Linked DNA regions of Homo sapiens: region 1 is linked to region 2. A link means that fine-mapping ties the variant in region 2 to the expression of a gene that starts in the linked region. Tissue or cell type: whole blood. Region 2 holds a variant in brackets; the other region holds the start of a gene. All regions are shown on one strand. Distances are from middle to middle.

What was found. PIP is the estimated chance that this variant, and not a neighbour inherited with it, causes the effect.
Region 1: it holds the start of ZXDC, and the variant in region 2 is fine-mapped to the expression of ZXDC in whole blood (TOPMed, PIP above 0.99).

Annotation. Positions count from the first base shown.
Region 1 is chr3:126,473,611-126,479,018 of GRCh38, forward strand. It overlaps ZXDC (ZXD family zinc finger C), which reads right to left and starts at 2,281. Exons shown (of 10, transcript NM_025112.5): 1 at 1,349-2,281. The coding sequence starts at 2,255. RefSeq lists an enhancer at 628-1,153 and silencers at 1,711-1,970, 2,041-2,550.
Region 2 is chr3:126,439,218-126,444,625 of GRCh38, forward strand. ZXDC (ZXD family zinc finger C) reads right to left here. Exons shown (of 10, transcript NM_025112.5): 8 at 2,548-2,729; 9 at 415-510. Among named protein-coding and RNA genes, the nearest start is that of ZXDC, 34 kb to the right of the region's middle. RefSeq lists an enhancer at 2,026-2,661. The variant TG/T (reference allele first, on the strand shown) is at 2,198.

The DNA.
Region 1 (5,408 bases), 34 kb after region 2:
AAAAGACTTTGAGCTAGTGGCCTCAAGCCACATTCTCTCTGAAGAGGAATGCGCAAGACAGTCCACAGGCATATGCGAGGGAAAAAATAATAAAACCCGTTCATAATTCTCATCTCATCCTTTAAAAATTCTTGTTTAAGGACATTATAAGGAGAGCCGTGTGCATATACAGGTTAGGGGCATGCTAGGCACACATTCCAGTTTCTGTTTGAATGACTGGTCCTTCCTCCTGGGCCCTCACCACAGACCACAATCCCCACCTGGGCTCTGCCACCCAGCCGACTCCATTCTTCTGCCTTTCCAGGGAGGAATCCTTTCTTGCCCTTCTGGAGGAACCCTATCCCTGTGAAAGCAGGGAAAGCTGCCCATCCTGGTGAAGAGCTCACTGTGTTGGAGTCCTACATTCCCAACAACTGCAGGTCAACACACAGGAGAAAGAACAGGCAGTGGACTTTTTTTTTTTTTTTTTTTTGAGACGGTGTCTCGCTCTGTCGCCCCGGCTGGAATGCAGTGGCGCGATCTCGGCTCACTGCAAGCTCCGTCTCTGGGGTTCACACCATTCTCCTGCCTCAGCCTCCCGAGTAGCTGGGACTACAGGCGCCCGCTACCACGCCCGGCTAATTTTTTGTAGTTTTAATAGAGACGGGGTTTCACCGTGTTAGCCAGGATGGTCTCGATCTCCTGACCTCGTAATCCGCCCGCCTCGGCCTCCCAAAGTGCTGGGATTACAGGCGTGAGCCACCGCGCCCAGCCACCAGCAGTGGACTTTATCCACAAGGCTCGGCCTCTGTCTCTTCATCTGTAAAAGAGGACAGTTTTTAACCTTCACAGACGGCTAATTTTTAAAACTTCACAAAACTGTGAGGTTCAACGGAAATCAAAGTGCAAAAGGCAAAAAAAGCCAGGATGTGCGCACACCTGTGGCTATCCTCCCAGCGTGTTAAGGTCCTGAATCTGGCCACATTCATCTCTGCTCCTCTAGCACGGAGTGTGCACCCCGTAAACAAATGACGAGACTGAGGAAAATAAAGACCTGACACATAGCTCCGTGCCACTCTGTGAAGATGCGTGCCGCTTTCATCAAGCACAAGCAGGTTAAGGATATCTGTTGCCGCCACCTTTGGGAAGCGCAGCTGTGGTGATCTGCGCTACCTGCCATCGGAATCCCTGCGGCAGGGCAGGGCCAAGATCTCAAATCGAATGACATGGAAGGAGCTAGAATACAAATCCCGAAGAGCCTGCGTCCCCGGCTTGCTAAGGTCTGGCAGGCCCCTCTGTGGGGCGGACGTGGCACCCCAGACCTGCCTGCAACACCGCGCAGCCCGCCCGCCCCCGAGAGCGCGGTTACCGGGAAAGTCACACTTGTAAGGGCGCTCGGGCTCGAAGTGGCTGCGCTGGTGGGAGCTGAGCTTGGCGTGCGTGGGGAAGCGCTCGGCGCACACCTCGCACTTGAACAGGCTCTCCTGCTCGTGGCCCTTCATGTGCGCCTTGAGGTTATAGACCGTAGTGAACTTCTTGCCACAGCCGCCCACTGGACAGCCGAAGGGCCGCAGCTTGTCGTGCGACTGCAGGTGCCGCTTGAGCTTGTAGGACGTTGTGAAGGCCCAACCACAGCCCTCCAGTGGGCACTTGAAGGGCCGCCGGCCCTGACCGCCGCCGTGCGTGAGCAGGTGCACCTTGAGCTGGTGCTTCTTGGCGAAGGCCAGCGCGCACTGCGGCTCGGGGCAGCGGTAGCCGGGCGTGCTGGGGCCGGAGGCCTGGGGCGCGCGGCGGGGAGCGGCGGCGCCCGCGGTTGCGGGGCCGGGCGGCGCAGACAGCGCGAGGACGCCGCGGTCGAGACGCACCAGCAGGTCCTGGCTGCTGATGGTGACGGCGCCCGCCGGGGCTACGCCAGGGCCGGGGGGGGCGGCCGGGCCGCTGGGGCCCTGCTCGGGGCGGCTCGCCAGGTTGACACGGGAGCCAGGCTCGGCCTCCTGTGATCCGGCAGCCTCGGCGGCAGCGCCGCCGTGCGGCACTTCCAGCAGCACCAAGAAAGAGTCGCCGTCGCTGTCGTCCTCGGCGGGCGGCGGGCTTGGCCCGGAGGCCTCCCCGGGCCGCGCCCCGGGCCCGCCATCTTCAGGGCCCCGCACCAGTAGCAGGCGGCGGCGCGCGGGGCTCGCGCCGAGCGGCGCTGGGGCTCGGCGGAGCGGGCCGGGGCCGCCGCCATGTTGCCCTCCGCGCGCAGTCGGGGCGGGGAGCAGCGCCGGGAGGTCCATCTTGGTCCCAGCGACGGCGTCGGAGCAGCTTCGGACGCAGAGCTGCCCGCGCCCCGCCCAGGTGTGCGTGCGCCGCCCCGGGACGCGATCCGCGCCAAGCCCCGGCGTAGAGTCCGGCTCGGAACCGCGCGTGCGCGGACGCCGCCGGGCGATGCGCGAGGCCTGCTGGGCTGACGTGACGTGAGGCTGGGCTGCGGGGCGCCGGAGGCGGAGGCGGGGGCGGGGCGCCGGGACCGACTAGGGCGGGGCGCGGGGTCGGGGGGCGGGGCGCGGGGTCGGGGGGCGGGGCGCGGGGTCGGGGGGCGGGGCGCGGGGTCGGGGGGCGGGGCGCGGGGTCGGGGGGCGGGGCGCGGGGTCGGGGGGCGGAGCGCCGGCACCTACGAGGGCGAGCGGCGGGGCACGGGACCGACAGGGGACGGGGTGAGGCTCCCAACGCTGAGCGATTCCTTCTCGTTCCCGCTGGCGTGGAAGACGAGGCTTGTCTTGACTTCGAATCGTATTAATATTTCAGACACTTAACAGGCAACCTCTCGTAGGCATTGACTGCGTCCCAGGGGCTGTACCTGTCCGAGCTGATTAAGCGTGCGCGGTCACCCAGGGGTGAGGAAACAGGGACGGCGAGCTCGAGTCACTCGGCAGCCGGCAGATCCAGGATTCGAACCTGTCCAACAGGCCGGACGCCTACCCCCAGCTCACTTAAGTGCAAGCTCGCCTGCCGCCGCTGGCGCACAGACCTCGTTTGCTTTGGCCCAGGTCCTTGCTCGGCACACGGGGCCTCCCTGATACGCAGGACCCCTGCCTGTATTTCCAACTGTATTTCCTACTAAACTTGGCACAACCTCACTCTGCAACAGCTTAATTACTTACTGTTTCCGGTCCTCACCCTCCCCCACCTCACCGTACACCTCCGCATTCAATCTGGACTCCTCCACTTCAACTTCACCACCACTCAGATCCAAACCCGCACTTTATTCCTGGGTACCTGAAAAATAACTACTAGCTGGTCATCGGTCTCCCTCCGCTCCACTCGCTCCCATCCACGGGGCACCGTTTTATGATCTAAAAATTGCACATCAAATTATGCTCACCTCCACCTTGCTCCCGAAGGCGCCTATGGCCTTGCTAGTCTACCCTCCCCTACCTGTTTGCCCTCACTTCCCGCCACTCTCCCGCTGCCCCCCCCACCCCTCCCCCGCACCCCACCTCTTTTTCCCAGTTCATCCAGCAAGCCAAGCTGGTTCCAGCCTCAGAGACTTGGCGCAGCTGATCTCTGATTCCTCTGGGAGGACTCTGCGCCCCTTCTGATCCAAAGCACATGCTTACCCAGTCCCGTATTCCCACCTCTGTCTGATCTGTTTGCTCTTAGAGCTCTCATCACCCGTTGTTTTGTTGAGTTCCTTCCCTGCTCCTTCACTGTCTCTCCCTCTCTGGAATGTAGGCTCCTGGAGCCCAGGAACTGTGTCCTATTCACTGTGTGTGCCCAGGAAGACTCTTGGTGCATATTTGTTAAATACATGAATGCTTTATTATTAAGAGTATTTTTTTAAGTAACACAAATTATAATATTAAAAAGAATAGGATACATCTATTATATATATCAGTTTATGCCGAAAACATATTGTTCCTAGACCATTCAGTAGAGGAAAGAATAGTCATTTCAATAATGGCGGCACTGGGACAACTGGATCTCCACATGCAAAAGAACCAATTTGGACGTGTATCTCTCATCAGAGGCAAAAATTAACTCAAATTAGAGCAAAAGCCTACACGTAAGACATAAAACTATTTGAAGAAAAGTAGGTGTAAATCTATGTGACCCTGGATTAGGGAATAGTTTCTTAGATATAATATTGAAAGCACAAGAAAGAAAAATAGATAACTTGGACTTCATCAAAATTAAAAACTTACTCAGGTAAAAGGACACCAATAAGACAGTGAAAAGACAACTCAGAATGGGAGAAGGGTGTGCAAATCGAATATCTGATAAGGATCTACTATCTGGAATATATAAAGAACTCTTAGCAAGAAGACAAACAGTCCACTTTTTTAAAAGGCAAAGGTTTGAATAGACATATTTCTCCAAAGAAGATAATACAAACAGCCAATAAGCAAATAAAAAGAGGCTCAACATCACGAATCATTAGGGAAATGCAAATCAAAACACAGTGAGATACAACTTCACACCTACTCAAATAGTGGTAATTTTTTTAAAAACAGGATATAGAAAAATTGGAACTCTCACATATGGCTGGTGGGAATGTATAACGTTGCGGTGTGGAAAACAGTTTGGCAGTTCTGCAGAAAGCTAAACATAATCTCCACATGACCCAGCAAGTCCATCCCTGTGTTGCTGAGGCTGGAGTGTGGTGGCTATTCACAGGTGCAATCATAGTGCGACCTCCAACTGGCCTCAAGCAGTCCTTCCGGGTCAGCCTCCCAATTAACTGGACTACAGGCATATGCCACCATGCCCAACTTGTTGCGCAGCATTGATTATGCCACATTCTCGTGATCAAAGAAGTCATAAGACACTGCAGACCCAGGCAAGGGGAACTTGTACTCCACCTCTCAATGGGAGGTGCTGGAAAGAATTTGCAGCCATTTTTAAACTATCACAACTTCTCTGTGCCTCAGTTTCCTCATGTGTAAAATGAAGGGGACTGAGAAAGAAAAAGGGCAGCCCCTGCCATCCAGAAACTGGCCGGGTGCTACAGCTGGGCCACTCTGTTCTGTAAGACTTGAACCATCACGCAGAAAACCAACCTAGGCCAAGGTCACTGAAACACAATGACATGAGACAAAGCAAGGCCACTTCATGATGTGTCTCCACCCAGATAAAGCGAGGTCACTTGCTGTGCCATTTACAAGATACCCAGCAGCCCCTCTCTCAGCTAACGTGAGCAGCCGCCGCTTTTGTACCCCTGACAGCCTGTCTGTCTGTGTGCTTCCCTCTCTGTATATAGGATTTAGTCAGAAACCTAGTCATGGTGTTGACCCGATTTCTGGTAAGAGCCAATCCAGAGCAAATCCCCGCTTCCTAAGACTCCCCCACCCAACCAAAGCTCAAATCTGATACTAGGTTGTTTCAGATACTAGGTTGTTTCAGCCTTCTGCTGAGATACCCTGAAAGGAGCAACAGGACTCCTGGCGAGG
Region 2 (5,408 bases):
TAAGCTATACGCTTTCGCTATTTCATATCAAACTCTGAATCATTCACTGCCACCCATCCTTAGCTTAACCACGTAAGCAAACTACTGAATTCATCCGAGTCTATTCTCCCACAGGCTGGGCCCTGGCCAGCCCTCTTCCCAGAGAATTAACTGGAATTCCTAGGCACAACACTTTCAAGAGCATATTAACTTCTCCTGCTTTGTCTACCAGCAGGAGCTGCAGCGTCCTGCAGATCTGAGCTCCACTCACCCACCTTCTCCAGAAGGCAGCAAGACATCCTGGCAACCAACCCACTGAGCCTCCCAAGCCACGCGGCCTCAGTGACCAGCCTGCAGCTGTGAAGCCAGGCTTCTGGAAGTCGAAGGCTCTGCGAGTCTCAATAAGAAAAACAAAGGGCAGTAAGGCATCCAGACCTGGAGGACGTAGACGGGCAGGTCCACAGTGAGGAAGGGGAGGAAGGTGGCTGGGCCGCGGGCCGAGGGCAGGACACCTTCGCCGGAGGGGTCATCCTGGGAAGGCAACACAGAAAGGCCTGTCACATGTCTGTGAGAGTGCAGCAAAGGTCCTCGTCTCACCTGAGAAGTCTCCTCCAGCTGCAATGCGTGGCAGAACCAGCCCACCCCCTGTATTCCAAGGGAGGCCCGAGGACCCAGCAGGAATTGTTTATGGGGGCTGGGTACTACCTGTTCCCACCTGGTTCTCATTCTGTCACCTTGATCCCAGCAGCTTTTGCTGGGCCTGGAACCTTCTGCTCTCCAGCTCCTCCCCTCAGTCAGCCCAAATACTGATTTCCCTCCTAAGGCACGCTCCTCAACTCCTTGCAGGTGCCCTGGCACGCCCTGTACCCCCACCAACCTTGTGTACCCAGAGTGCTCTCCAGCAAATCCTCGGGCCCCACAGAGGGCCTTCCCTGCATGCCCCAGCTTGCCTACGGGCCAGCTGGAAGGACCAGGGCAGGTAGAGGGGCTCCTGAGAGGGGAGGCTGCCAGGCCCCTCACAGTCCAGGCTAGAAACTTCATCTGTCCCACACTTCGCCTGTCCTGCACCTGCATGTCCGCCCATGGCCATTCACACCCCGAAGCGGAGCTCCTGGTGCTGCTGCTCTGCACCTCTCATTCCTTCTGTTTGAGAAGCTCCTGTGTGTCAAGGTCTGCACTACTGTTCCCATTTCATAGATGACAAAACTGAGGCCCGGAGTGCTTAAGTAACCAAGACTACGCTAGCTGGTAAGGGACAGAAAAAGAACTCAAACCCAGGTTTAATCAGGCATCTCTTAAAAGTATACCCCCTACTTGCTCCTGTTCTGCCGGTGGCACCAGCTTCCCTACCGTCTCCCTATTGCCAAGCCTCTGGTCCTGACTCTGTACCTCTGCCCTGCCAGCTGAGGCAGTGTTTCCTTGGATGGTCCTCCCCCTCCCCCTGCCCCTGCTCCTGGGGAGTTCTTACCTCTTCAGAAGCTGGAAACAAAGGACCAGTGCTCCTGCCCCTCTCTAAGACAAGCTTCAGCCCCCATCTGACGCTCACCGCTAGCTTCCAACCAGCACAGGGCCACCCCCAGCTGCCCGCAGCCTCTTCCCTGCCCCCTTCCCAGCCCACCTCTGCCCAGGCTGCCCCTCCTCTTGCCTCTCTGAGCCCCAGGCCTGGTCCTGTTTCCTTGGCGAGACTCTCCCAGGACTCTGAACCCACAAACGTGCCTGTTTCCCAACTCAGAGCCAGCGTCACCTCCACCCTCCGCACTTCCGTGGGGCCTGCAACCGCATCCCCTGCCACAGGGAATCTACAAAGTGGAGTGGTGAAGAGGGGCACACACCTGGGCCAAACCCAGACAGCCCCGGCTTGTATATCTCTTCTCTCCCCAAATCCTTCCAAATCATCTTCCCTCCCCATTCCAGCCCCTCAAACTGAGACTGAAGATGCAGGTGTGCTCAGGGCTGCTGAAGCAGGTGTGCTCAAAGACCTCCTGGAAACTGGCCACAGCTGCAGGTATCTGTGGCCCGGACAGGCTGGGAGGGGCCTGGGCCTGCCCTGGAGGGGCTCTGTTTCGTAGGAAAGAAAATAGAAAAACACTGAAAAGACCCCCACCACCTTCAGCATAGAAAGGCTGCTAGTGCGCCACAAGCAGGCCGCCCTAGAAATGGGGTGGCTGAGACGGCCTGCGGAGCCCTTTTGCCCCAGCCCTGCAGAAGAAGGGCAGGG[TG/T]GCCTCAAACAGATCTCATCCTGCTGCAAAACAGCCCTGGGGGCCTCGGGCAGGGAGGCGGGCTACTCTGGGGCTAGACGCAGGGCTGTGCACAGACAGGTTCAGGAAGTGGATGCACGGTCCCAGCAACACTCAGAGCTTGAGCAGATGCAGGACAGGCTGGGAAAAAGGGAGGAGCTGGGCTGTGAGGAGACAGGACTTGGGGCAGTCTACAGGGGAGGATGCACGAGGGGCAGGCAGGCAGGGGGTGCTGCGATGGGCAGGGGATGCAGCATGCCGCACACTGCTCAGACCTGCGTGACCCTCCCACCCCGCCTACAGCTGGCCTGTGTGACTGGCCAGCTCTCACCTGCACCAGCTGGACCTGGACGCCCTGCGCCCCGCACTGCACCCCAGCTGCTGGAGCTGGTCCTGGCCGTCCTCCGCTGGGCACCACGAGGCTCCCACACAACCAACTGTTCTGGCTTGCATGGAAATGGGGAGGACTCATTTTGCCTTCTTTTATTTTTCTCTGAGTAGACTGTGAGGCTCCTAAAATGAAATATAAAAACGAGCACACCCAATCTACAATCTACCAGTCAGGTCTGCCCTTACCAAGGTCTCACTATGGGGAAGACAGCCTTCCCATTAATTGTCATTCTGCACAGCTAAGAGACGTAAAATCACTTAACAGAAAAAATCAAGAGTTAAGAGGTTGAAACAAACAACCATACGAACAAAAAAACATCAGGATTTTGATTTTAAAAATGTAAAAACATCATACGTATTTTTTTGCCAGACGGTACGGTAATCAGACACAAGCTGCAAATTCTTGGAGAGCAGAATCCTCTAACTCCAGCAGCTGCTGGCTGGCAGGAATCCCAAGCGCAACTGAGGACAGCCAACAGCCCAGAGCCACAGCATCATGGAATAGGAAGGAAGCGGGCGGTCTCCATACCCCACCTGTGGGTGGACTGCTGCCTCTGTCCAGCTCCTTTCCAAGTCACTACTCCATGGGTTTTACAAATATGTGCTTCTTAAGAAATGAAGTAAAGCACAAAGAAAAAAGAAAAAATCTTAACACCCATAACAAACCCAAGAGCTGCTTCAAAAGGGCCCAAAGGTAGCCTAGAGCGTGCACTGCAGAGACCCCGGCTAGGCTCACCCTGACCCGCCACCCACTCTGCTCCAGGGATCTGGAAAAGGAACTCAAGCTCTGGGCCTCAGCATTATCTACCTGTAAAATGGGAATGCTAGTCCCAACCTCGGAAGGTTTTGGAGAGGATTTCATAGGAAATATGTGATCAAAACTTAGAACAGTGACTGGCGAGTGCCAAGGAGTTTAGGCACTGTCACTGCTCTGCCCACACATCCCTGCCTGGATGTGTGGGATCCAGCTATGAACGGCTTCAAAAAAACAACTGTACAATGACTATCATATAAGTTATTCCTAATAAAAGTATTCAATTGGGTGACCCTGCTGCCCAAGGCAGGCTGTTTTTACGAGGCTGTTTGACAGGAAGGTTCTGAGCAGCCCATGGGGTGAGAGCTGACTTGCCCTGCATATGCTGTCTCCCTGACCTGCTCACCTCACTCCAGATCCCTTCCTGTCTTCCGCAGTGCCCTGGGTCCCGGAGAGCTTCACACTCAGCAGGCAAGCCAACTGGGTGCACAAACCTTGGGTCCTCTGTACTTAGGCACAGCCTGCTGTCTTTTCTGGGTGCCTCAGGGCTCTTTTTCTTTGAAGTGCAAATGCTAACCAGGAGGTTTCTGGGTAACACAGATTCAGTTCCCCCTCACTGCAGGGAGATGCACTTCCATTACAAAATACTTCCTTTCTGTTCATCCATCAGTGTTCCAGAAAACCCAGCAACCCTCGCTCTGGATCATCTCTGACTGTTCTCCACGCCTGGTTTCTCTTTTTCTAATTGCTCTACTTGCTTCAGACAGAAGAGCAGGGCTGGGTCTGGGGCAAGAGAGGTGCCTGGGGCACAAAACTTACTCACCCCTCCTTGAGGAAACTTCACATCAGTTCCTAGTACTGCAGTCTATTAAGTCTGCAATAACATTATGTCTAAAACAATGCATACCTTAATTTAAAAATACTTTATTGCTAACAAATACCGACATAGACATGAAGTGAGAACATGCTGTTGGAAAAATGGTGCCAACAGACTTGCTGGATACAGGTTTGCCACAAACCTTCAATTTGTAAAAAGCAAAAAAAAAGTCAACTGCAAAAAATGAAGCGTGCCTATATCCTCCGTGAGCTTGTATACTATCCCACTTACCTCCAGAATTTTACCTGAATGCATTTCTATGCTTTCAAGTCTTTTATCACCCTAGCATATAAAAATATGTACATAAACTTAACTTTTATTTAACTTCTAGGCATTAACATTTTTGGTTTGAACTGTTACAACTGCAATTATTAGTAATGCAAAACAAATCAAAACAAAATATATCAGAAACTTTGATAGATAATTATGATATTAAAAGCAAAATTATATTAAAAATGCTTTTCAAGAGGAGTGGGACTGACTGGTGGTTTTCTTCCCCAGTTAGTTCATGTATTTGTGTCTAAATATTACTTCTTGCTAGAATTAGACATGGTCAGCATCTATTCTTGTCAATTAAAAACTTTTTTAAAATAAGATGCTCATGTGTCATCACAACTTTGCAGCTGCAGGTTGAGTTTATTCAAGTGAGGGGGAACTGCCTGCCCACGAAGCCCCAGCAGCAGGGCCGGTGCTGCAGCCAGAACAGTCGCATTACGCTTGCTTTCTAATAAAAGGCCTGGCTTCATTTTTAAATTCAAATAAAAATACTGAAACATGTTATTATATTAGAAATATTGGCCGGGCGCAGTGGCTCACGCCTGTAATCCCAGCGCTTTGGGAGGCCAAGGCGGGCAGATTACAAGGTCAGGAGATCGAGACCATCCTGGCTAACACGGTGAAACCTCGTCTCTACTAAAAATACAAAAAATTAGCCAGTGGTGGTGGCGGGTGCCTGTAGTCCCAGCTACTCGGGAGGCTGAGGCAGGAGAATGGCATGAACCCAGGAGGCAGAGCTTGCAGTGAGCCGAGATCATGCCACTGCACTCCAGCCTGGGTGACAGAGCGAGACTCCCTCTCAAAAAAAAAAAATAATAATAATATGAAAACCACTGTAGAATAAATTAAGGCAGGCAGTGAATAGTGTATCTCTCCAGATTTCTTTTAAAAGCAG